Homo sapiens: one gene and its partner. The protein of the gene in region 1 purifies or fractionates together with the protein of each later gene. This does not show direct contact. Each region holds a gene or a part of one and is shown on either strand. Other genes may lie near its edges.

Region 1 (3,373 bases):
ACTGAATGTCTAGGGACAAAGGAATTACCTATGGTTTTTTGTTTTTGAGACAGTGTCTCACTCTGCCACACAGGCTGGAGTGCAGTGGCGTGATGTCAGCTCACGACAACCTGTCTCCCAGGTTCAAGCAGTTCTCCTGAGTAGCTGGGACTACAGGTGTGAACTATCATGCCCGGCTAATTTTTGTGTTTTTAGTAGAGACGGGGTTTCACCTGGCACCGGGTCTCCAACTCTTGACCTCAAGTGATCTGCCCACCTCAGCCTCCCAAAGTGCTGGGATTGCAGGCGTGAGCCCCCGGGCTCAGCTCTGGAATTTATTAAATATGTATCTATACCCTGACACTGCTGGTTACTGTCTATAATCCGAGTGTTTTGGGAGGCTGAGGCAGGAGAATTGCTTGAGGTCAGGAGTTCGAAACCAGCCTGGGCAACATAAGGAGAGCCCATCTCTTTAAAAACAAAACACACACACACACACACACACCAAACAAACCCATGTATTTACTGCAGACCTACTTTATTATGCACCGTGATGTTTCAAGTATCACAAACCATTACAAAGCAATATAATCACCCTCCTTCCCCCTTACTGCTTCAAACTATTGTGGTAAAAATAAATAAATAAAGCCCTGGCGTGGTGGCTCACGCCTGTAATGCCAGCACTTTGGGAAGCTGAAGCGGGTGGATCACCTGAGGTCAGGAGTTCGAGAGCAGCCCGGACAACATGGCGAAACCCCGTCTCTACTAAAAATACAAGTTCGCGTGGTGGCGCGCGCCTGTAATCCCAGCGCGCCACCACGCTGGGGGACGGAGTAAGACTCAGTCTCAAAGGCATGACGAAAATAGCAAAAATGCTTTAGTGTTATACCTGTTACGAATTTAATGGAAATTACAAGTAGGAGCCCATTACAATCTCTAGCCTTAAAATGCTGAAAACATACACAGTGTGACAATAAGTAAACTTCGAGACCCAATAAGGGGGAAAGTCCAACGTGGAAAGTATTTGGTAGGAGTGAAGAACAGAGTGACAACTGCTTAGTCCCACTGGATATTTCGCTCCTCTTCAGGAAGAATACTCCAGTTTGGGGAGGCCATATCCCGGGCCAGCCAGTTAAAATCGTCAACATCGTTCCAGTTATTTTTGCTCCTATCTAAACCAGAGCTCTCGAAGTCCTTGTCGATCTCCGGGTAGCTCCAGGTGTAAGGGGCGAACTGGATCCCACTGCAGTCCTCCACGATGGCCCTGCTGGTCACCTGCAGGAAGATGCGGGTGTCTTTCGTACTGTGTATGCGGAGCTGTTGGCAGGCCACTGCCAGCACGCAGTCACTGCAGTCCTCCAGGAAAACAGAGGTAGACACCGGACCGCAGAGCAGCTTGCAGCTGTGGGCCTTGGTTAGCCGCAGGGTGTTGGGATTTCCATACAGTCTGACCGTGCAGTTGCTCAGTTCGGTCAAAAGAACGTCGCGCTGGTGCAACTCGCTGGCTCTCTTCTCCAAGACTTGGGACTCCAGGTTGGAGAAACCGCAGACCCAGCTGGGGCCGAGGTCTCCTTCCGCCTTCTTGGGCAGCGGGGAGTCCTGTATGCTTTCAACTGCCGGGGGGATGCCAGGAGCCGCGTCTACTTTGGTAGACGAAGCAGCATCCTTTCCCCGGGTCTTGAAAGCGAAACGCTTCTTGGGCTGCAGCCCCCGGCGCCGCTCGGCCAAGGCCGCCTGCAGCCGCGCCAGCGCCTCTTGTCCCTGCCGCAGGTCGTAAGCGGCTAGGAAAAAAACTGAGTCGTTGATTAGTTTCTGCAGCCCCTGGAGCCGAGAGGCCGCCTCCTCCAGCCGCTCGACCGACTCCGCGCGCTCCAGAAGCTCTTCCACGGCCGCTCGCTCCCGAACAAAGGTGGCGACGAAAAAGTGGCTGTTCTCCTTCTCTACCTCCTGGTTCTGCCGCTTTTGTTTCCGCCTTTCAACTTCCAGCTGCCGTTCTTGTTCGCGTCTCTGAAGCCGCTCAGGCACCAGGCTCAGGTCCCGCTGGGACTCCATGTCTCCGGTCCTGACAGCAGCAGCGGAGCAACTGACGGACTCCATATTGGCTTCAAGCTTCCTCTCTCTTGTCTTCCTTCCTCCGGGCGCGCTGTCCGTGAGGCCTCCCACCAACGCGTCCGGTGATTGGCCTAACATGATGATGTCAGATCCCCGGCCTTATTTTCTTCGCCTATTGGTTCCTCTGCGTCGGAGGGGGCGGGGAGATGGGGCGGGGCCGACTGACTATGGGGGTGGGAAGACAAAGGTTCTTGTGGATGGGTGGGGTGGGAGGCAGGCGGGGGAATCTTTTTTTTCCTCTTAAAGGGGCAGGACTTATATCCGGGATTGTGGGGTGAGTTGCAGCAGCGGCAGCTGCACATGTGGGTTTGTTTATAAGAACAAGGTTAGAAACTCGCAGGCCTCCCCCTCCCCCCAGCTCCTCCCTACTACCCCCTTACAGGCCGGAGATCCGCTACTAGGGGTGTGGGTGGGAGGGATGAGTGCGTGTGGTGGGTTGGGGGGACAGGTAGTGGTGAGAAAGATGGAGCGGGGGGGAATATTGCACCGCCTGGCCCGCGCCGGAGGAAGCAGCAGCTGGAACAGCTGGCTGGGGAGCCGCTTGCATGCCTCCGGTTTTTTCTTTTCCCTTCCACCACCCCTTCCCCCAACCCATTTCTGCCTCCCCGTAGCCCTCATCCTTACCGCCCCCCTCCCCCCTATCCACTGCAGTTCGGCGCGGCCTGGGGGCTCCTGGATCCCCGCAGGCAGTTACTAGGGCAGGAGAAGGCAAGGGGCACTGCGATGGGAGAGACTGGGTTCCTCACTGCAACCTGGTTCGAGGGGCCCTGGGGGAGTCCATAAAAGGATTACTATTTTTTTGGCCAATTGCTGCAGTCGGAGGGGTGGGGGCGGGGGAAGGTGAGATCCACACCCCCTTCCTCTTTCTTCCCTGCCCTCCCCGAGCTCGGTCCCGGCCACTCCCTCCGCAGCTGGGCGTCGCCGGCCGCGCTGGGGTGAGACCCTAGCCCCGGGCTCCGTGGCTCTCTGGGGCGGTCGGTCTTAGGAAAGCGGTGGGAGAAGCGGTACATTATTTCTAGGGGTGGTGGGAGGGATTTGTCACCGGAAGTGAATGGCCTAGCCTAAAGTCGGGACCAACCCGAGGTGTGGGTGGGCAGCCAAGACGGCGCAGTCACTGGCAAAAACCCGAGGCAGCGGGCAGGGCGAGAACCCGAGACGCAGCCGCTGCCCGGGCGCGGCAGCCTCGCATGCTTCGCTCAGATCTGCGGAGCTCCCGAACCTCTTTAACCCTGCCCGCCCTTCCAACCCTAGGTTTCCTCCTTATATCCCCAGTTCCCAGCCT
Region 2 (2,354 bases), on another chromosome or scaffold:
CATTTGGCCTTGCCCCTGGTGAGTCATCCCTCTAAGTGAAACACATGGTGTTCCAGCCCCAGCATTAGAAGTGAACGTTCTATGGCCCACATCCCCAAGACACACACACTAGATAACGGGAAGCCTTCCCCTGCAAGGAGAGAACATGAGGCTCAGGTTAAAGTGTCCTGGGCCTTCTTCCTTACTGTGTCATAACATGCAAAGGCCATGGCTCAGGCTCAAATTCAAGAAGAAGGTGGCAGATTCATTAATATCCTACACAGAGCTTTAATAAAGTCAGACTACTGTGCTGAGTGCCTCATCACCCATCCACTTCTGAGCACTGCCTGCCTGAAATACTCACCCACCCTCCAGCTGCTTGGCCTGTGGCTCAGAAAAGAACCTGTTGGACAAAACAATGTGTCTGCCTGCTGCTTCTGCTTCCTTGGGCACAGAGGCCATCCTGCCAATCACTCTATCTCAGGGCAGGGCACCTGGGTTCCACCTGGAGCACTTGACCTCTTCCCCATCTGGATGGGGTAAGAGCAGATGCAGCTCAAGGATCACATGCCTGCAAGGCCGAAGCCAGCCCACATGGATGGAGGTGAGTCAAACAAAGGAACAGGAAGCCTTCCTGTGCATGTGGATGTAACTGGAGATCAATGAGGACACTGGGATGCAGAACCTGCCCCAGTGTATGGAGATGGAGACAAACACAGGAGGCAGGAGAACTGCAAGGCAGTACAGTTCCCCAGCAGCTTCCCTATTGTTCTGAAACATACGTTTTCTGGCTACCTCGGCCCTTGTGGCCAAGAAACCCCATGACCAGTGGAGCTTTGATTTCTGTAGAGTACATAAGTTTGGATGCCCAGATGAATTAGCTACTCAAGGAACCAGGCCACCTCCTCAGACTGGACCTGCTCTGGCATACTCTGTTGCATTGAATTTAATAGAGGTATTTAAAGCTGGTGGCCTCACTAAGTCCATGTCTTCCTGGATTAGGGAACAAGGAACAAAGCCAGAACCTGCCTGCCTGACTTGGATGCTCAGCGTTGGATACATTTCTGGCTAAAACAAATCAAAATCAAAACAGGCTTCTCAATTCCATGTGGGATTATTCCATCAAGTCTAGAACTCCTGGCTAGGAGGCAGTGCCCATATGATTTTATGTCTTGGCCTTTTGGGATAAATCCCTAATTTGGGGGCGTGGCTAAATAGGTAGCCATGAGATTGAAATGCAATAGGTCATCAACCTCATGTTTCCCTGGTGTCTGATTCACAGTATCCCTAAGGCCGGAACTTCTCAGAGGTGCAGATCCCCATGCTGAGAAGCCCAGGGGATACTTATTCTCTCTACCCTGCATTAAGGAGAAAACACAAAACCAAAGGCATCTGTGCTAGGATACAGGTGACCAAGGAGCACTCCTGTAAAGCTCCTGCGGATTTAAATCTCAACCCAGAAATGCTTGTCATTTAGGATCGGTCACTAACTGGTTGTGTCTTCTAGAATCTAACTACTATGTGTCCACAGAAACCATCACCAGACGTTCCCCCTTTGTAGATGCTCACTCTGTCATCTACAGAGCACATTCTTTGGAATCAAAGGAGAGAAGCCTCCGCCGGATGCCTTCAAGGGTGAGAGACTATGTTTCTCTGCTCTGCGTAAGTCCTTCCCCTCTAGGCAACTCCAAGATTCTTCCAACCAAGGCCCTTGTCTGTGCCCGAGGCTGAGGACTCTGAGACGACAAGGGTGGTTCTGAGTCCATATGGCCCAGCAGGCCTTTATGGAAGCCAGGTCGAATGTTTTGCCTCAACACTGTGAGTGTTCACATTCATATGAAGATAGCTTCATATGCGTGAATCACACCGTACAATTCCATACGTGTCCTGCACACTGGAGTCCTTAACTCCCGGCAGGGGACACAGCTGTCAGCACACTGCTCTGCCTCTTTCATCCCTTGTGCTCTCCTGAACATCCACACACATCTTTGAAACCCATTTCCTGTTCAATTCCCGCACACTCCCACCTCCCGTCTCCCGCTCCCTCCCTGTGACTAAGAAGATGCCCTGGGTAAGAGATGGAAAACAAGTGCCGCTTCCCTGCACTGAGGTGTTCTCTCCTCTCTTCTGAACTCCCTCCTTGCAGCCTGACCTGCCAGTGGAAGCCTCCAGGGAGGAGAATGCCACAGCCAGGTGTTCAGCCCAGCAGGGGCCTGGCGTAGTTACCATGTAAGGGAATGCTGAAACCTTGTTTCCAGGCTGGGGACTCTGCAGCTCGGGAGACGACTGAGAGCGGGCAAACACCCCCTGTGGCAGATCTCAATGGCCCTGTGGCTATGCCAGGCGCTCTCCCTGGGTGCCTGTGTTTGGTCTCC

The links. The genes of interacting proteins can lie anywhere in the genome.
Region 2: the proteins of TBCC (region 1) and NTM purify together in Homo sapiens (affinity purification with mass spectrometry; one large-scale study listed by BioGRID and IntAct). This does not show direct contact.

What each region holds. Positions count from the first base shown.
Region 1 is NC_000006.12:42,743,998-42,747,370, forward strand, and holds TBCC (tubulin-specific chaperone C), read right to left. Parts: upstream 2,107-3,373; 5' UTR 2,077-2,106; coding exon 1,036-2,076; 3' UTR 501-1,035; downstream 1-500. UniProt on the Homo sapiens protein: Tubulin-folding protein; involved in the final step of the tubulin folding pathway.
Region 2 is NC_000011.10:132,332,615-132,334,968, reverse strand, and holds part of NTM (neurotrimin isoform 9 precursor), read right to left. Parts: exon of another isoform or gene 2,206-2,354; intron 1-2,205.